2 separate regions of the Homo sapiens genome follow, and region 2 is linked to region 1. A link means that fine-mapping ties the variant in region 1 to the expression of a gene that starts in the linked region. Tissue or cell type: whole blood. Region 1 holds a variant in brackets; the other region holds the start of a gene. All regions are shown on one strand. Distances are between the middles of the regions.

Region 1 (10,664 bases):
GATAAACCATGAAAGGGGTGCTATGATACATGTATCCCTAGTGCCAATTCTCTTTTGAATATTCTAGATTCCCTCAGCATGTATTCTCAACCATGGTTCTCCTTCAATATTCTTACCTTTAAAAATTTTCACCCTCTTCCCATCTCCTCCTGTTTTTTGACAAGGTGGGTATATGATAGAGCTTTGTATTAGTCTGTTTTCATGCTGCTAATAAAGACATACCCTAGACTAGGTAATTTATAAAGGAAAGAGTTTTTGGTTTTTTGTTTGGTTGTTTTGTTTTGTTTGAGACAGAGTCTTGCTCTGTCGCCCAGGCTGGAGTACAGTGGCACAATCTCAGCTCACTGCAAGCTCCGTGTAAAGGAAAGAGTTTTAATTGACTCACAGTTCCACATGGCTGGGGAGGCCTCAAAATCATGGCAGAAGAGCAAGGTACGTCCTACATGGTGGTAGGCAAGAAGCTTGGGTAGGGGAATTCCCATTTATAAAACCATCAGATCTTGTGACACTTAATCACTACCATGAGAACAGTATGGGGGAAATTGCCCCCATGATTCAATTATCTCCACCTAGCACCACCCTTCCTACATGAGGATTATTACAATTCAAGGTGAGATTTGGGTGGGGACACAGCCAAACCATATCAAGCTTAGAGAATCAGACACTTGGCAAAGAATCTTTATAACCCTAGTAAGACCTACCATGCATTGAAAGCCAACTGTTGAAACAATGAGTAAAGTCCATTGCTTATATTACCTCTGCTCCTTATGTACTAGTGTATGAAATGGGTATCTCTACCTGTTTCTCAGGTAAGGGAGGAAGTTGGGGCTAAGATGGGTCAAATAGGTTGCACCTGGTTTTACACCTAATCAAGATCAGAGCTGGGAGGTAAACCCAGGTCTACTTTAAATACCATTTTCATTCCAGGAGGAAAGATATCCATTCACTTATTTATTTAATCATTCAGAGAGTATTTGGGATCCTACACTGAAGGGTGTTTTGTGATAAATTCAAAGTCAGAATTTCTTTCCAACACTCATTCTGCAGTTAAGATGGGACACAATGATCGAAAACAGGAGAACATGCTATATTTCCCCATGCTTCAGCCCTAGGCACAAAGGTCTTCTTATAGACAGAGCTCCACTGGCTCAAGTGACCCATGAACACAGGAAAAGGAATACAGTGCAGTGAGCTAATCCCAGACTGATCTTATATATCCATCCTATGTCTGAACCACTTAATTTTTTTACTCAAATAAATCAACAGAGTGCAGAGTCAGCCTTCTGTGGGCATCTCTAGAGTAATTAGAATAGGTTCTAAAGGCTCTCTTTGTCTAACTTGGTGTGGAGGCATTGCTGACACTTTACCGTGTGATAACGGGCAAGTGACAGCCACAGACTCATCAGTTCACACATCCCTCACCTGGTATTTCTAAAGCCGTTGTACTTTTTTCTCCTATTTTTTAAAGAAATGTTTTATCATAAGAAATTTGGCGTGTTCAGCTTTTAAAATTTTTTTCTTATGCATTTGTCCAGAATGAAATCCCTTGACACTATCACATTTGTCCCAGACACAGCTTTTGGACAAAATAGCCTTTACAGATCATTCAGAGGAATATTCATTGAGCAGTAAGTGAATTACAGTCAGTCGAAGCTTGCATAAATTACAGCTTCTGAGTGAAGGAAATAAGAAGAAATACATGATGAAAGCTGAGGCACATCAAGAAGCCCATCACCTAAGATTATTGTATCTCATGACATATTCCCCTAAACATGCTTCTCTTGGCTTCCCCTGTGCCATAACATGTATTCTATGAGAAAATGATAATAATTCTTGATTCCTCATGCTGACCTCCACATTTCACAGGTCAAGTAATGTTGAACATTTTAATTCCCAAAATTGCCTTCAATACATCCTTTCAATGCACTATCTCTCAACAGAGCAATTGAATTTTATTCTCCACCTACCCCAACATATGCACACACATTTGTCTCTATTGTCTTTGTGGTCAGCCCTTCACCGTTGTATTGGCAGAAGAATCTTCTACGTGACAAACTAATTGAATCACTGCCTTGGTCAAAGTCCTTTAGTAATTCCAAATTGATCAAAGCATAAAATCCCCAAAAGTGAAAAAATGTCCCCACATTCTGTTCAAATTGTCCTTCCATCCTTATTCCCAGAACGTTAATGTTTTAAAGAAACCAAGCTGCTCGCTCTTTCTAAAGCACATCCTGTCCTTTCACTGGGCTTATCCTGAACGGACCAAACAGAATGCTCTTCTTTCTCTTCCCCACCTGCCTGAATCTGGAACTTTTTTCTGTTTTCTCAGGTTGAGTTAGTTCTGCCCACCTTTGAGTATCAACACTTGACATATGCCAACCACGAATGGTCCTGACACCCTGATGGGAATGACTCTCCTGTTTGCTTCACTCACAAAAAATGAGCTCTTCCATTTAAAGGGCCATTTCACTTTCAGTTGTTATTGAAATATTTCATTAAAAATATTTTTGAATGAATGGATGGATGAATCTTGAAAAAGTTTGATTAAAATATGGTGCCAGCAGTCAGTAGCAGTTATGTTAGTTGGGGAGTGAGTCAGAGTATTGAAGGTCTCTTCCACACGGTCCCTACATAGTGGTCTTCCTGGCCTTGACCAAGCCTCCCATCATCAAGGGGAAATTCTGCCATTTCTTCATCATCATTTTCTTATCTGTAGGCCCTAGTGTCTAATGACATCGGATGAACCAGATGCTTAGTTTCTCCAGTAATGTTTTTGTCCTTTCTTGAACAAAAAGTTGTATAATGTTACTTAATCATATATGATTTTTTAAAAAATTGTATAATATTACTTAATCATACATGATTTTCTTAAAAATCATATAATGTTACTTAATATACATTCTTTGTGATGGGACAAAAATGGCAACTTTATTAGAGGAAGAGTTAATGTAAAAACCAACAATCTATTCTAGTTGCAATCCTCATTCAAAAATTCAAATCAGCTGATAAAATTGACATAAATTTTCAGATGTAAAACAAAGACATCTTCATCCTCTTAGTCTCCAGATAGATATCACTCGCCTGGAAAATTTTCTCTGACTCCTAGATTTGGGAGAAACTCACTGCTATGAATTGTCCCAGCACCCTGTTCTTACCATGCGACTCATAATAGCGGTAGCTATTTATTTCTTGTCATCCTTCCATACCTATCTAGGAACTCCTTGGGAGAGGGACAGGATCTTCCTAACCACTGTATTCCTCATGCCTAGTACAGTGATGGCACCCAGCAGAATTTCAGTAATAGGATTTAATGAAAGAACAAATGAATAGAGTTTGCTGGTAGAAAACAAGGCTAATTTTCAAACTTTCCCTGCTGACATGAAGAAGAAGGTATTTTCTTTAGCACCAACATGGTTTTTTTTAGCGCTCCCCAGCACTAAAGTGGAAATATGACAATGTACAGTTCACAGGAAGTAGATATTTCACACTATGATTAGTCTTTTTGGGTTGTTGACTGAACCAATCTTAGGACTTTAAAAGTCATAGGAATGCTGTAGCCCTATAACCATGAGTTCATGGCTGGCTGATTAGGCTCCTGAGACTAAAGCAACAGACACACAATCAAACCTCCTACTCTTGCTGCCTAAATTTTATTTATTATTTTTATTTATTTATTTATTTATTTATTTATTATTTTTTGAAACAGGGTCTTGCTCTGTCACCCAGGCTGGAGTGCAATGGTGTGATCTCGGCTCACTGCAACCTCTGCCTCCTGGGTTCAAACAAGTCTCCTGTTTTAGCCTCCTGAGTAGCTGGGATTAAAGGCGGCTGCCACCACGCCTGGCTAATTTTTGTATTTTTAGCAGACACGGGGTTTCACCATGTTGGCCAGGCTGGTATTGAACTCCTGACTTCAGGTGATCCACACACCTCACCCTCCCAAAGTGCTGGAATTACAGGTGTGAGAAAACATAAATGAAAACTGCAGTAAAGTAAACAAAGCAAAAGTGACAATAAGGAGTTGAAGGCAGCTGAGAGTTGAAAGTGTCCTGCAAAAGTCTCAAACTTTGCCGTTTTACTCAGAGAACTCTCTAGAGCCCTGGTCTAAGGTCCAGACAGACATGGTATTATCTGACTTTCTGTTCCCAAATCCCATCTGATTACGTTGCAGCCTCAGTTCTTTATCTGCTTCCCAGCCTATGTGGGTTTAGTGAATGACTGGCTCCCTGAAAACCCATCAGTCCAGATAGTGCCTTTCAGGGGAACCTCTTTCCTCCCAGGCTTGCACAGTGTATTTCAGCTGGGATGCCTCCTGATGACTCCCTCTGGCTGGTTCTGCTACATTCGCTCACTAACCTTTAGATACTCATTCATTATTAATGCAAAAGTGAGTGGTCATTGCCGAGTTGCAGTGGAAAGTCACACTTAACTTTCAATGCCATCTTCCTCTATTCCTGAAAGATGCTATTAGAATTAGGCAGGATGTTATAAGCTGAGAGAACAGCAAAGGAAAAGCATTTGCCTGCCTTCCAACCTCTCATAGCAATGATTAGAACACATTAAGGATTCTTTTCATTCTAGTAAGTATTTTTCTAGGTTTGCTCGAAGACCTAAATCAAGTTAGGGTAGGTTTTCGTAAGTGCCCGTGGTTTGGGCTGAAACCGAAAACTGATTCAAATGATGCAACTATTATGAAAGTTTTTCTGTAATAAAGTAATCATAAAATTGAAATTATGAAATGACTAGTGTTCACTGCCTTTCCATTTTCCAAGTAATTATCTGACGCTTCTGGGGTTTAGCAGATTTTTCTGCTAAATTTTTATTAAGATGAAAAAAGAAACATTTGTAAATAGCACCAAAGGTAGGATGTATTAAAAAGATACAGAGATGCTCAAAAGGCACTGAAATAAACTCTGTTTAATTTCTACTGGGGTCTTGCAAGCTTTTGGACACCCGAGTCAAATATTAAAACAACATTAGGGATTTTTTCTTAAGTTCAGAAACCCCCACCATCTAAGCAAAACATTTAAATTCTATTTTGGCCTTTGTTAGAGTTGGAGCATCATCAAACAGTACTTTTTCTAATCTGACATTTTAGAGGTTGGCAAATAATGACCATGAGCCACATTCAGCCCACTGTCTGTTTTTCTAAATACAGTTTTATTGGAGCACAACCACACCCATTTGTTTATGTCTTATCTGTGGGTGCTTTTCA[C/T]ACCTCAATGGCAGAGTTGAGTAGTTGCAACAGAGACCATATGGCCTGTGGAGCTGAAAATGTTTACTATCTGGCCCTTTACAGAAGAAGTTTGACAATGCCTGCTTTAAATAAAATATGCATTCTATTAGCTGGAGCTAGGCTTTTACAGATTATTAAAATATAACTAAATCCAATCCTTAACTTTCTGAGCTGCCATTACTCCCAAATATATTCCATTTGTGGCTGATAAAAACAATGTTTTTTTATTTTCTTTACCTCTCAAAAAATGCACTGAAGAAAACCTAACATATCAGAAGACCTGTCTATGGAAAAATAGGGGGAAAAGTCTCCTAAGAACAACCTCAGAGGGTTTTTAGAAGAGCAAACATTGCCCAATTTGTTCCCAACCAGTCCCATTTCTGTTGGTAAAATAAGCTCACAGCTTCAGTCATTACTCTTTGGGCCAGCAAGATCAAAGATGTGTTTATGTGAATGTGCCAGGGAAGGAGACAAAAAGCAGAGGTTCTCCACCATGGCTGCATATTGGAAGCACCTGGGAGATGAAGACAGTTCGAAAGCCAAGTCCCTCCCCAGGCCAATTAAATCAGAGTATGTGGAAATGTGGCCAGGGCAGCAGAATGTTTTCAAATTCCCCAGGTGGTTCTCCATTGCAAATAGAACTGAGAGTCGCTGGGTTCCAGTAAGGAAGGGTGCTATATGGAACAAGGACGTCACTTAAATTTGGGGGTTTTCCTTTCCACTGTAAAATGAGAGGGTTGAAATGAAGTTCTCTGAGGTCATTCCCGTCTGTGATTATAAGTGCAGTTCAATTGAATTAAGTTAATTTCCCCAAAAGAGGAAGCATGGAGCATTTTGACACCTTCTGTTATGAAGAAATATGTGGAATGGAAAGTGTTCAGAGCACGAATGGGTTCACTGCCGTGGGAACATGGGAAAGAAGGCTTGACGGTATTTCTGCTACTACTCTGTGGTTCAGTACTTCAGAAAGAAGAGAAGCCAGAACTTCTCTGGGACCTGTGTCAGACGCATGCTGTTACTCCTGCTGGCCTTTGCAGGCACCTCCAGTTCTGGTGGTTCACTTTTAGTTAACAGACAATAACCGAACACATGGTCTGAGGCTCACACTGTGCAGAGAGAGGGTGAAGCTTCTCAAGGGTGAATATTTTCTCTAGAGGAAAACAATGATGGGATAGATTCTGGTTCTGCTGCTTACCAGCTGTGAAAGATGGGATTTATTCATTCTCTCTAGACATCAGTTTTCTCATCTGCACAATAAGAGTAATAATCATCTCTCTATTCTGGTATCCTACAGAGGATTAAATAAAATAATGCATCAGAAGGCTTGGCAAAGTGTCCACCACAATGTAGGCTAAACAAAGAGTATATCATCATTACAATCATTTTCATTATTATTACTGTAATCATCATGATGTATTGGCAACACACAAGTGAATCAAAGGTACTGGCTACCAGTGATTTTCAATTTGTGGTTACAAATGACACCTAACAGGGCTGACTTTGTTAATATTTGAGGGGCTCTATAATAGTAAGATGGGAAGGTGTCTTTCTGTATAAAATACCTCAGACATTACGAGGGAGCCAGGCATGGTGGCTCCCGCCTGTAATCCCAGCACTTTGGGAGGCCAAGGCAGGTGGATCACTTGTGGTCAGGATCTTGAGACCAGCCTGGCCAACATGGTGAAATCCCATCTCCAAAAACACAAAAATTAGCCAGGCGTGCTGGTGCGTGCCTGTAGTCCAAGCTACTGGGGAGGCTGAGGCAGAAGAATCACTTGAACCCAGGAGGCGGAGGTTGCAGTGAGCTGACATCATGCCACTGCACTCTGGCCTGGGTAAAGGAGTAAACTCCATCTCAAAACAAAACAAAACAACAACAACAGCAACAACAAGGCTAGCAAAGGGCAGCATGTATGACAGGCAGGATGCACACTAACTCCCATTCCCTCCCCCACTGCAGAATGTACAGCATCGCATGTGCAGATGGTTATTACACAAGTGTGTGTCCATAAGCAATCTAGGGTGTATTTTGAATGCTTTTAAAGCTTCCTATGAATAGTAGCATATTAAATGGATACTGGTGAAACCTGGATTTTCACTCAACATTAAGTTTTTGAGATTTATCCATATCAACACACGCCATGCAAGCCCACAGGTTCTAACTGCTATATTCTATGTCACTTTACGATTTTGCCATGATTTATTTATCCTTTCTTATGTGGCTGAATATTTGAATCATTTCCATTATTCTGTATTACAAAAAAAGAAATGTTGCAGTGTCCATTTTACATGTTTCCTTGTGTACAAGTGTGGGAGTCTCTTAGTGCGTTTACTGAGGAGCTTTATCACACAGAATACGCCCATCTTTAAATTCTCAGTCTCCTTTCCGGGCTCATTGTTATCTCCTGGATTTTGTAAGTATCGGTGTGCCCCACAGCTCAGTTCTTGCATCTCTTCTCTTCTCCACCTGCATTTAGGTAATACCACCTGGTTCCATGTCTTTAAATACCACCCAGGATTACTATCTCCAGTCTGGACATACTTCCTGAAGTCTGGGTTCATACATCAACTTGCTTACTTAGTATCTTTGTAGATATCTAAAGGGACATATGACGGACATTGTAAATGCTCGCCAATGGGGTTTCTCTTCCAGGCACACAGACTGCATTTCTCATCGCACTTTCACCAACATGGGAGAATGTGACTACTTCTTGTTGAAAAAAAATAAGAATGTACCACTTGTCTTTGGTTCCCTGGGAAATCGAGTCACAGATTTGGTATGGGAGGTTATTGGGCCAGCCCTTCAGGAATTCACCTGTATGGGAGTTAGAGGTGGAGATCTGGGCAGAGGGAAGACTTGAACTGAACTGTGATTCATTTCCAGCAGAGCCTTAGCTGATCCCGCAAGGGCCCTGGAGGTGAAATCGCATCTCAGAATTGTTCCAGATGGAGGCATGAGCTGTGTCTTTTTCCTCCCATGTCAGCCATCATTAGAAGTGGGCAGCTTCTAGGGAGAGGACATTTCCTTGTGCTAGATGGCTTTCTTTATCTGAGAAATTTATGGGGAGGGATGTCCCGGGGAGCCACCCGACACTTCAACAACAGGGATAATAAATACCTCAGACCTCAGGGGGAGTGATGAGCAACACACCCCCACATCCACTGCACACTCCTAAGCTGAGGTGGTAAAAAAGAGCCTGCTCAGTTTTCAATCTTGTACTTCATTCAGCAATGAGTGTGAAGACCATGAATGGCCCCCATCTCAAATCCTTCAAGGAGCTACAAGGGCTTAAGTCATCTGAACCTGTATCACTTCTCCAACCTCACCTTGAACCATTCATACTTATCGTTCTCCAGTATAGAATGACCCCCCACTCCACTCAGCTATTCACTAATTCCCTCACTTCTTTCAAGGCACTGCTCAGATGTCATCTCATTGTTATGAGCCCTTCTCTGATCACCATCTATTTCAAAAAATATATGTGAATAAATTTATTTTTTAAATTATTTTCCAGAGCATTCATGTCATCATAAGACACATTACAAATTTATTTTTAAACAAATAAAAGACTAGCCCCATCTAAGCATAACTGTCTGCACTTCTCACCTACTGCAACTGGAATAGCCACTGCATTCAATAAATGTTTGTTGAATAAATGAATTGAATATAGTAGGCATTAGTGTTAATGGTTTGGGGATTCTTTTGAATTTTCTATTAAAATATGTTATTTGCATATAATAGCAATTTTATCTATTACTTAAATGTTTAAAGTTTTCATTTCTTTCTTTTTTTTTCTTTTCATATTGCAATGGCTAGGACCATTCTTGAGGATTGTTTTTACCACAAAAAAAGAGATAAATTTTATCAAGTTATTTTTCTGCATGAATGGAAATGGTGATGCAACTAATAATTAATGGAGTTTCTGATGTCTAACCATACTTAGGTCTCTGTGATAACCTTCCTAATCTTTGAAATCTATGTCAAAATGCAGAGCTCAAGAGATATAGACCACAGATTCTGATGGCAATAAGACCTTCTGATCACAGAGAGAGCTGTTTTTCTATGAGAGACTATTCCACGGACAGAGGTGGCGCTTTTGAAGCATAACCAGGCAAAGTCAATGCCTTCAGGAGCCAGACAGATGCTGTGAATCAGGGAAACAGACTGAGGGTGGAGATGGGCACACGGGAGATGCCACCTTCATACATGGTGCTCAGAGGAAAATCAGTACCGACTGTTGCCATGTGAAAATGAAGGCCCAGTGTGGCCAGGTCATCTGATATTTGTCTAGACAGACTAGAAATCTGGATATTTAAAACGTAAAATATTCTACTTTTTAAGTACCTTTTAATAAATTCAAATTTATACAAGAAGACATCATGTGGTCCAAAAAAACTCATCTCTAGGCCAAGGAAGAATTAAGAGTTTGAGACTTCCAGTGTACAAGAATGAGTTTATGTCCTTCTCTGATTTTAACAGGCATTTTAACTCTTTTATCTAGATTTCTTCACTTCTGAATTATGGCTAACAGTAATTGTCTCACTGAGTTGTGGTTTGTAAATAAGTATCATAAGCATTAAAGCAATGTTGAAAAGAAGGAAGTTCACTATGACTCCCAACCGGTGAAGGCATCACACTGGAGGAGAGAGGAGAGAGGGAAGCTGGAGCTCATGTCCATCACGCCTTGAAGAAATCCACTCTGAGAGCAGCCCATGAGCCACATCAATACAAGTAGCCATAATAAGTAACGGGAGCTGTTATATACATTTTTGTTTTCTACTGTCCAGTACACCCAAAATCTAATGTTTATCATTTAAAAAAATGGTGAAGTTAAGAACTCTCCTTGTGGGTGGCCGCGTGGGTGAAGTCACATGTGTGACAGGGATGATCCTACTGCAGGTGGCAGTGTGGGTGCTCAGGATATTTCCGGATGCCACTTTTCCATCTCCTTTATCCCTTGTGTCTGCAAGGCGGGCCCTTTACGGATCACCAAGAGGAAAGATGCTAGAGTCCAGTCCTAAAGGAGATTCCAGTCCCAGGAAAGCCATCAGACACATAGAGAGGACACCTACACAAGGCAGTGTGGGGGTGGGGGCGGGGGGCTGCGGGGCATCTAGCCATGGTAGCCATGGCCCTGCCAGCACTCAGCCTCTGTGCCCTGGTCCCCAGCATATAAAATGACGATTGTACAATTCCAGTGTTGAGGGACTGTACCAACCCCGATGAGATTAATGCATGTGACAGGTTTTAGCACCTGGAACTTAGTGAAGCCTCAATTACTATGTATCTTTGGTATTCTTATTAAAGACAAGCAAAATACCACGGTGAAATAACACGGTGCTCCAAAGAGAAGACGTTTGGAATGCCTGCGGGGATGGACGGCCAGGCCATATGAAAGAGGACTTCACAGATGGAGAGGGTTTCCAC
Region 2 (10,664 bases), 290 kb before region 1:
AATTCTATTTCTATTTATCATATTGCTCTCAAAAGGCTAAGCCTGAATGCTGGTGTACATTTTCTTGCTAATGTACATTTTTCTCATTTCTGTGTTTCTTTATTTTTAGTAGATTTGGAATACACAAAAGTCCCCCTGATTAAGCTTTTAGAATCACCATTGTCTCATTAGTAGTGCATGTATACATGATTATTCCATTGAAAACAATCAGGAAACTGGATACAATGTCCTTCCAGCTGCTACCTGAGAGGTCTTAATATTCAGTGTGTAATTGAGAACGACAACCACCACAATAATAGTAATACATGGCTTGTATAATTTTCTACTTTTTAAGAAGATTAAATATAATAGCATATGCTAAAGTACTGAGTAAAGTAGACAGTTCTATGTAACTATTATCCATACTTGTTTTCATTAGCTGAACTCTTGATAAATGTCAAAAATCTACTTTTCGCTGACACTGTTAAAATCCAATTTTCAGAACATTTCACTTTACAAAATAACTTCACAACTTTGATCCTCCGTATTCATAACAGTGATCTTGCCAGGTGGTTGTTATTACCAATTCCAGAAAGATAAACGAAACTACAGACAGCCCAAGTGGTTTGCATCAGGTGGCATAGCTAGTGGATGTCAGAGCTGTCCATGAAGTTAGACCCATCCACCTTTACAACACATGCTACTCCCTGAAGCCACATTCTTTTACATACGGGAGACATTCCTGAAGCAGAGAAATAGCACTTAGTTCTTTTCTGAAATGCTTTGCCCTCCCTTGAAAGGAGGGGCATAGTCCAGTTGTCCAAGTAGCTAGAGAATTAAGTAGAAATGATACTTTTGTTCTTTTTAAACGTTTCTGGCTTAGTTTTGATGTACCAGATACTGAGTAACAATAATATTTTTTTTCCTAGAAATAATAACTGCAAACATCATAGCAAGGCACCAGCATTTCTGCATCTCATTTAATTAGAAATGGAGAGACTGAAAGTAAAACTGGTAAGTCATATATGCAAGAGAGACAGATCGTCCACGGCAGCGCTGCATGCTGAACCCAGGCAGCTGACTCCAGAGCTCTGTTGCTCAGCTTCGGCCTTTGGTAGTGTGACTCCAGCTTTTCTTGTTTCTCTTTGGTCCAGACCTGACCACAGGAAAATAAATCCATAGCCAGTTTGAGATGTTAGATCACAGTTACTTTTGCATTTTCCAAATGTATTGAGAATGCCTACAACATGTCATATAGCAGTAACATTGTTTTGGTTACACAGATACTTCAGGGAGAACAATGCAATTTCGCTAAGTTTTCCACTGAAAGCAGTCACCTCTGTGTGGAGAAAATTCAGGAATCCCAAACCCAGGAATGATGTCTTGGTGGAAAACTGAAATGTTTGGAACTGGAAATTCAGAGTGGAAATGCCCTCCTAAATGAAGAGAGGCTGCTGTTACAATGGCATTAATTATTTAAAAACAAGCAACAGAAAATAAAAATGTCTCAGGAAAATTGCATTCATACATGACAGAGGAATGGTGCTGCCTTCTCATATGAAGTAGTCAGCAAGGGTTTGCATGTCAGTGAGAGTTTGCATGCTGGGAATAAGGCCACCACTAGATCTCAGGTCAGCCGAATGCCACAGCCAGTTTTATGCATTGTTCACTCCCATCTGAACAAATGCTTAGGGAAGGGGTGGGACAAAACTGGGCTTTTCAAGCAGACTGCTTTGGTTTGGAATTCTGTCTCTAGCGCTTGCTAACTATGGACCTAGGGGAGTTCCTTAACTTTAGTAAACCTCAACTTTCTCATCCTTTTAATTGGGATTAAATAACAGCCATGCCGCATGTTACACAGACACTTCCCACAACGTTTTGCTGCTTCTGTTTCCATGCTAAGCCCGCTGCACTGAGAGCTACTTGAGAAAAGTATCCAGGGTGTTGTTTCCTCCCTATTTTCCTAGTGCTTAGTGCATGGTAGGCATTTAATACAAGGTTGATACACGGGAATCATCTATCTTCTGCTTGGGGGACACAAATTCTAAAGGTCGGGTTGAATTTAATGGTAGAAAGGGAAGACAGGAAAACAGTGGCAAATGTTTGGATCCATGCAAAGTTAGCACACTCATTTCTGGCTTTAATTTATTTAAATGGGCCCTGAAATCATAGATGCTTTTCCATCTAATTTAGAGATACTGAAGGACATTCATTGAGCGAACAGTAAAACTCGCCTTCAGTGGGTCCGTGACTGTTAATACCAATCCTATGTAGTTAATGTTGTATTCTCCAAAATTGTATTTTCCATAGAGTAATTATGAGTCAGGCAAAAAGAAAAACTGTAAATTAATCAGGGTTTACACAGTAAACAATGCACCTAAAAAGAGTCTTAATGAGCGAAGCATTGTCCAAAGCAGCCTGCTTTTAAATATACATTTCTGAGTAGATATGACTTATGATGACTGCTCCTTTCTTAATTTCATTCAATTTGTTGGATGGGTGATAGGAGCACGCATATGAATGTACTGATATATCTTATAGGGCTGTATTCCGGCAGTGCCCTGGATTCGTATAATGTGCCTTTTCCCAGAAACAGAAGCATCTTTTCCTCTGTCAGGTTCTTTACCAATGGGGGCTCGGCTGGAAGGGCTTCATCCTTGAGGACACTGCTGCTCTCCTTCCCTATGGAGGATCACACAGTGTCCACGCACACATGAGCCACTGCCGTTAACTTTGACGAGAACCGCGTGCGGTTTGGGGGTGATTTAGCCTTTAAACAATTCCACTCTGGGTCCCTAAGAGTTTAGCTCTGCTTCCCTGATGTGCAGTTTCCTGAATTCAGGCCAGGAGGGCATCACCCATTTCTCAGTCATACACCAAATCGGGCTAACCATTTGACTACATGGTACACTTTAATGAAGTTTTCCCAAGTGCAAAAGGAATGTGCAATGGCCGCCCTTTTCCAGGCACTTTCATACATGACATCCGTACATGCATGAATGCACTGCGCCGAGAATCTGTTGGTTCTTTTGCATGTGTTGTCTCCAGTCCTCACCAGGCCCTTATGCAGTGGCTACTGTCATTATTGTGAAGAGGGCAAGCCCCAGATTGACTATCTAGAGGCATATCGCACTGCTGCCGTTTCCTCTGTCTGTGCCTTTCGGCAAGTCAATCCTTCCAAGCCTCAGTTTCCTTATCTGTAAAATGGAAAGTCTACTTCTTAGGTTGTTATCGGGATTGCCACCCCTAACATATTGTTGGCCAAGTGGGAAAAGCTCAATAAACACTGTCATTAATCTCATTGTGAATTAGACTGGGTTCAAAAAGGTTAAAACCAACAATAATAATTGCATCCCTTTCCCTATAGCTTTCATGTCTCTCCTAGACAAAGAATAAAGTTTTGTAAGTTTTCAGTCTTAAGCATAGAACTCATTTCTCCCGAGACTTCATTTTCATGGTAGGGTAGTACAGATTGAATATCCCTTATCAAAAGTGCTTGGGGCCAGAAGTGTTTTGGATTTTGAATTCTGTCAGATTTTGAAATATTTGCATTATGCTTACCCATCGAGCATCCCAAATCCAAAAATTTGAAACTTGAAATGCTCCAATAAGCATTCTCTTTGAGTGTCATGTAACTGCTCAAAAAATTCTGGATTTATGAACACTTCAGATTTTGGATTTTGGGGTTGTAATGCTTAATCCATAGTAGATAAAGGCACTTTGTCAGCTCCATCAGAGCAAGCTTCCTCAGAAGCACTACCTGGTGATCACTCTCATTCCTTCCCAAAGTTTCATTTCTCTCTCTCTCTCTCTGTCTCTGGAGACAGTGTCTTGCTCTGTCCCCCAGGCTGGAGTGCAGTGGCATGATCACAACTCACTATAGCCTCAACTTCTTGGGCTCAAGTGATCCTTTCTCTTCAGTCTCCTGTGTAGCTGGGACTATGGATGTGCACCACCATGCCTGGCTAATTTTTTTAAATTTTTATTTTAGCAGAGATAGGGGGTCACTATGATGTCCAGGCTGGTCCTGAACTCCTGGCCTCAAGCAATTCTCCCACCTTGGCCTCCCAAAGTTCCTGGATTACAAGTGTGAGCCCACCGTGCCTGGCCTTAAAGTTCAATCTTAACATGGGCCCTGGCCCTGTTCTACTTCTAAAGATCTCTTTTGAATTCTCAACCCCACCTTTATCATGGGCTTCTGTTCTGTCCTTCAGAAAAGCCCGCCAGAACCAAAGATGGAAGTTACTGAAGATGGTGAAGCTAGGGAACCCCAATAAGAGCTCCCATCTTATTTCTCATTGCTTGCTTACAAGCACACTATTCTCTAGCTTCTGACCTATGAAAAGTGCTTGGCACACATTTGTGCAACAAAACTGACTGTGCTAGCTCCAGGTGCAAAACTGCCCAGCAACCACTAGACACAGTTCCTGCCCCACTGTGCTCACCCCACCTGAACTAACCAAATTATTCTGGCATAACCATGTTAGAAAAGGACTCTTGGGGACTGCTACGGGACAGCCAAGGTGGCTCAGGGGTGCTAGACAATGTGCATCTCAACATGCTTCACAAATGATTGCTTATGTTTAATAGTACATGCTCACGTGCATGCTATAATGGCTATCATTTTACACATCGTAGCTCACTCTGCACAAATAACTCTAAGAGATTTTTCCTCTTGTTTCAGAGACATAGAGAGATTAAGGAACATGCCCAAGTGCAATATGGTTAGGGAGTGGTGAAGCTAGGCTGCAAATCTGGCTCTTTTTGGCCCTGCACTTTAGGCTTTAATTCTGCCAAGCCAAAATGCCAACACAAACTGTCACACTCCATCTACCATCTTTTTTTTTTTTTTTTTTTCTGAGACAGAGTCTCGCTCTGTCCTCCAGGCTGGAGTGTGATCTTGGCTCAGTGTAACCTCTGCCTCCCGGGTTCAAGCAATTCTCCTGCCTCAGCCTCCCGAGTAGCTGGGATTACAGGTGCCCACCACCATGCCTGGCTAACTTTTATATTTTTAGTAGAGACAGGGTTTCACCATGTTGGTCAGGCTGGTCTCGAACTCCTGACCTCGGGTGATCCACCCACTTCGGCCTCCAAAGTGCTGGGATTACAGGCATCAGCCACTGTTCTTGGCCCCATTTATCACCTTAGCTCTGAGACCGGCCTCCAAGAGGGGTTCCCTGTGGAGTAAGATGTGCACATTCTACTTATTCTCTCTTCTAGGTCAAGTGAGAAAATGTACTTGAAATCACTTTGTAAGCTATAAGGTACTCTATAGAGAGTACCTTATATATATACATGTATAAATGTACACATATCTATACACATAAGTACAACTATATTGCTCACAATTCACAAGAAATGTGTGATTCATGTTAAATATTCAACATGTCGAATGTATTGGGGTTGTCTATCTTGATATAGATACTTGTTCACAAGCTATTAGTATGCCCTATTGACATTTCATACAAATAAACACAATACACACACACACACACACACACACCCATGTTGCTCTTCCCTCTTGGGAATGTTTGCTCAAGAGGCTGAGGCTGAAGTTGGCCTCCTGCTATGTCTGAGAGCAGCCCTTGCATAGGTGTGAGTGTGCACAGGAATTTATTTTCTAACCAAGGGAGAAATTGACAAAGTGAATAGAAAAACCACAAAAGCAGCTAAGTTAGATTTGGGTTCAAAAAAAGAATGCAGACAGAAAAGGAAGACTGTGAGGGGAGAGTTGATAGGTGGTTTAAGGAATGTCTGGCGAGAGGCAAGGAATAGAGTAAAGAAGAGAAAAAGTAATAAAAATAACTGCAACACTCACCTCTGAGAACAAATGACTGTAGTTGCTGCATGCTTAACGTCCCCATCTTATGAAGCACCACACATCAGCAGAAATGAGATACACAGCAGGGAGGTGTTAGAAATCTGGTTTTGCAGATGATTTTGTCAAATCACCTACAGCTTTGCTCAAACCAGTTCCAAAGGCTTTAACCACATGGTTTGCTTGTGTGCACCTATTTCCTGAGTTGCTCTAAATTGCATGACTTGGGGTGTAATGGCAATTCTTTGGGTTTTTGTGGCTCCATTTCTATGAGACACATGATTAGAAATCCTGTTTGCTTTTTGCTTGTCAAGCCTTAATCAGCTACCACGCTGGGCTTGTGTGAGGGCCCTGATAATCAGCCTGCTTTATGGAGAAGGCAGAGTGGAAACAGGACAGGAGACTTCCCATGGCACGGATACAGAAACGCAGCTTTCTTCGGGTTCTCCTTAAACTCGGAAAGTATCTCTTGTCTGAAAAATTTAAGTCACAATCTCTAATTAATTAGCTAACTAGCTCCCCCTCTTGAAACGTCTTTCAGATAAAAACTGCATAATGCTGCAAAGCAATGGCCTAAAATCAGACTAATCTACGTCTACGGCAGTCCTTAGGATCCATTGTGTCAGAAAAATACATAGAAATGTCTTAAAATCTGCCCAAACACAAAAACTGTAACTGTGCTATTACTTTCGTTGGGTTTATACCTTTCAAATCATCTTTTTTCCTTAAAGGTATTTTGACACAGCTTAAAAAAGAAAGGCACCAAAAGCCTTAGCCTGTACAGCGAGCTATAAAATTGCTGCGAGCTTAAACAGTCAAGGTAGGAAAAATGGCAAAAGTTATGTCCCCAACAAATAAGCTTGTGCTTTTGTCATAAATGAAGACTCTTAAAATGTGATGCCACCCCATGACTTATTTTGTATTATCTTATTTTTGTTTTGCTCCAGTCATTCTCTCCCTTTATCTTACATCAAAAACAAGAAAAGTTTTGCCTATGTCTACAACTTAAGTGAGGAACCTATTATGTGATTATGATATAAAATTCAGAGCCAGTGATAGGCCGTCGTGTGGTGTAAACATTTCAGAGGATAAGAATAATAGCAAAGAACTAAATTGAAATGTAATCCGTGCTGAGATACTGTAACAAAGTCTCGTAATCTCTTTAAGCCAGCTGTTCTCAACTTTGGCTGCCTATTTGAATCTTGCAGAGATCTTAAATCCTTCTTGATGCCTGGGTCTCACCCTCCAGGGATTCCGATTTCATTTGTCTAGGTTGTGACCTAGTGTCATGGGTTTTAACAGCTCCCCAGGTGATTCAAATATGTGGCCACGATTGAGAGCCCTCTTGTCAGCTGACTGTACTGTATACACGGATCTCTGACAGTAAAGGTCATCACCTGGTTCCCTGATTTGTTCTGGTCTTATTTGTGTGCCAATGGCTCTTTCTTGGACTTCAGAGTTTTATCTGCACAGATGATTCTGATACTGCTTCTGGGACTGCTGACCCAGTGTGGGCACTTGGTCATGACAGCTTTTTGACCCTATGCTGGTCTACAGGTGGCTAGGGCCCCTGTAACAAAGTATGAAGACTGGGTGGCTAAACAGTAGAAATGTATTGTCTCATAGTTCTGGAGGCTGGAAGCCCGAGATCGAAATGTCTGCGGAGTTGGTTCCCTCTGTGGCCTCTCTCTTGCTTGCAGGCAGTTCCTTTGCCCTGTTTCCCTACATGGTCTTCCCCCTGGCGTGTCTGTGTTCTAATCTCCTTTTATAAACACACAGGTGAGATTGGATTAGGCCCACCCATATGACCAAATTTTAATTCAGCAACCTCTTTGAAGGCCCTGTCTCCACAGGCACATTTTGAGATATTGGATGTTAGGGTTTCAACATATGAACGTGGGGGTACAGAATTCAGCCCTTAACAGCCAAGAGGATGTCTGCACTAGCAACATGCATGCCTTTGTCATAGCTCTGCTCCAACTATGAGTTGGGAAAATGTCAGAGATAATCGGAGTGCACAAACTATTCTCAACCATCTTCCTGGGCTTGCTTTATCAGTCAAAGTAGCAGCCACTGGGGTATCCATTCCCAGGCAAACTCTCCTGTATGGCTGAATCAGCCAGCAGGCTTAACCTGTGGAATGGCCTGGAAAACTCACCTTCCATCTCAAGGATTCTGTAAAATGTCTGGGTGCCCTTTTCCAGGGCTTCGGGAAGTGGGAAGCCCCAACCCCACCGCTCCCAGCAGGTGCAGCAGGAGCTCTTTTCCTCAGCTGCTGGTGTTTCAAGGTGGCTCAAACACCTGACCACCCAGCTGATCTCAGTGACACTGTGTGCCATCAGAGGCTACAGGTCTGTTGGAAAGAACATGTTGATTCCTCCTATTAGTAGGAGATTAGTTCTTACATTTGGTGGTTCAATCTCTGGACTTTTAGTTTCTTCTTGGTTTTCCCTAAGTTTGACTCTCAAAATCTCCTTGGTTTGGACTTATTCTTCCAGTTGGATACACTTCCACGTTCATTCCTGTAAAGGAAGATGTAGTTAGATTCATTTGCAAACAGAGCTTCTCTAACTCCTTCTGCACTCTCAGGTTCTTCACCCATTTCACCTTCACCCCTTGCCAAACTGGCTTAGCCTAGCTTAGCGCTTGGATTGTTTAGCATTGTATTGGGTTCCAGGTATTTCTGGAAGTGTCGATTGAGTCCTCTAATTAGTCAGTGCTTCAGAATGTCTATGATTTTTCAAGTCCTCTTTTTTGGCTTCACACTGTTAAAAATTACACTTAGTATCAAGGTTAAAATACAGATGATAGTAGTGCATTTTTTGAGTTCCCTGAGAGCATGTAGCATGTAGCTGTCAGTTTCCGGCATCTAGTGCATGCCATAGTCCTCGCTTCTAGGGGTCGCTTTCCAAAGTTTCAGTTACCCTTGGTTAACTGTGGTCTAAAATAGTCCATGGAAAATTTCAGAAATAAACAATTCAGAAATTTACATTGCTCGCTGTCCTGCGTCATGTGAGTGAAATCTCACCTGGGAAGTGAATCAGCCTCTGTCCAGCGGATCCACGCTATCCATGCTCCCCACTCATGACTCACTGAGCAGCAACCTCAGAGATCAGATCGACTATGGTGGTGCCACCATGCTTGTGTTCAGATCACCCTGATTTTACTGCATAATGGTCCTGGAGCGCAAGAGTAGTAATGCTGGCAACGTCGATGTACTAAACAGAAGCCATAGAGTGCTGCCTTTAAGTGAAAAGAGGAAAGTTCTCGGCTTCAGGAAAGAAAAAAAATTGTGTGCTGAGGCTGCTAAGATTCAGTCTTCTACTCAAGAAATTGTGAAGAAAAAAAGAAATTCATGCTAGTTTTGCTGTCACACCTCAAACTGCAAAAGTTACAGCTGCGGTGCGTGTTAAGTGCTTAGTTAAAATGAAAAAGGCTCTACATTTGTGGATAGAAGACATGAACCGAAACATGTTCCACTTGATGGCAATAGGGTCAGTACTGCCTGTGGTTTCAGCCACCTACAGGGTGTCTTAGAATGTATCCCCTGTAATTAAGGAAAGACTACTGTACTAATTAAAAACCCAGTGATTCGAATTGAGACAGACTTATTGAATTAAACCTATCATTTTCTGTCAAAACTGATAGGGACCCAAGACTATTTACACTTGGAGGTGGATAAAATCCAGAGAAGAGACGTGAGTGGTCTGAGGCCATACAGTGAGCTAAGGTCAGAGCCAGGATTAGCTCTATGTTGATTAATGTGTCCCATGCTTCCAACTCATGAGCATTTTGCCTTAGGAAGATGGCAAAACTGGATAGTATTTCATGGCCTTGAGTTTAGCATACTTCTATGTAGCACTTAATTTTTGAAAATAAAGAGTCGTATGGATGTTTGAATTTTTAAACACGCAGTCCTTCAGAGGAAACCATGCAGCTTGCAGACTGTGGGGAGAAGATGGTCTGTAATAAAAGAGCTGGCCTGAGCCTCCCGATGGCCAGCTCCTCTCAACTCGTAACAACCATCTGGATTGTCTGTGTGGAGACCAGATTGCCTGTTATGTCCACCAAATGAGTTGCCTTGCCCTAGAAAAACAAAATTCAAACATCTATCAAAGAAACCTGTCATCTCCCTGTCTTCCTCTGCAGAAATCAGCTTCCTTCTCACTTCCACTGGAGGCCCAGTAAGAGAGTTCATCTCTGCAAATCCGTAGGGTGACAGCTGCCAGGGGGGACTTCTGGACCAGAATCTGACGGGTAAGAGAAGACTCCCGATGAGAAAGTCAAAAGGAGGCGTTCAGCGTGGGTTTTCTCTGGCACTGTTGTCAGTAGTTTAAGAAAACAATCCCTACATATAGGTTGGGTAAAATCCTCTTTTCCTCGTCCCCTTTGCTGAATAGAAGGTGGAAATTTGGGACATTTTGTCTGCAGAGTTCTGTGCTCTGCAACTCCCTCTCTTTTGTTTCTCAGAATAAGGGAATCACTAAAAGGTTAAAACTCTCTCCCTAAAAAAAAAGAAAAAGAAAAAAGAAAAGAAAGAAAGAAAAAAAAGAAAAAGGAAAGTAGAGTTGGTTTGATTCGGCATTTAATTAGGGCTTTTTGTCTCCGTTTTACATTAGTGGGTCTTCTCCTGCTTAAGCACATGGTTGTTCTGATTTTCAAGTTTCTTCTTAAGTTGCTTTAATTTTGCTGTGAATTGTTTTGTGAGGCCAGCTCCAAGGAATGAGCAAATGCCTTCCTGGCATGGAGCTTTGCTATCAGCAGAAAAAACAACACAAATATTTTCCCAAGTAAAATGGCAGCCATTTAACAAATCAATTGTAGCAATTGTACATGACAGGCCTGAGAATTTTATACCTGTTCATAA

What was found. PIP is the estimated chance that this variant, and not a neighbour inherited with it, causes the effect.
Region 2: LINC01871 starts here. The variant in region 1 is fine-mapped to the expression of LINC01871 in whole blood (TOPMed, PIP above 0.99).

What each region holds. Positions count from the first base shown.
Region 1 is chr2:7,431,865-7,442,528 of GRCh38, reverse strand. All of the region lies in intron 4 of LOC100506274 (a long non-coding RNA gene), which reads right to left. Among named protein-coding and RNA genes, the nearest start is that of LINC01871, 290 kb to the left of the region's middle. The variant C/T (reference allele first, on the strand shown) is at 5,216.
Region 2 is chr2:7,720,987-7,731,650 of GRCh38, reverse strand. It overlaps LINC01871 (long intergenic non-protein coding RNA 1871), which reads right to left and starts at 5,872. Exons shown (of 2, transcript NR_183384.1): 1 at 5,798-5,872; 2 at 930-1,135.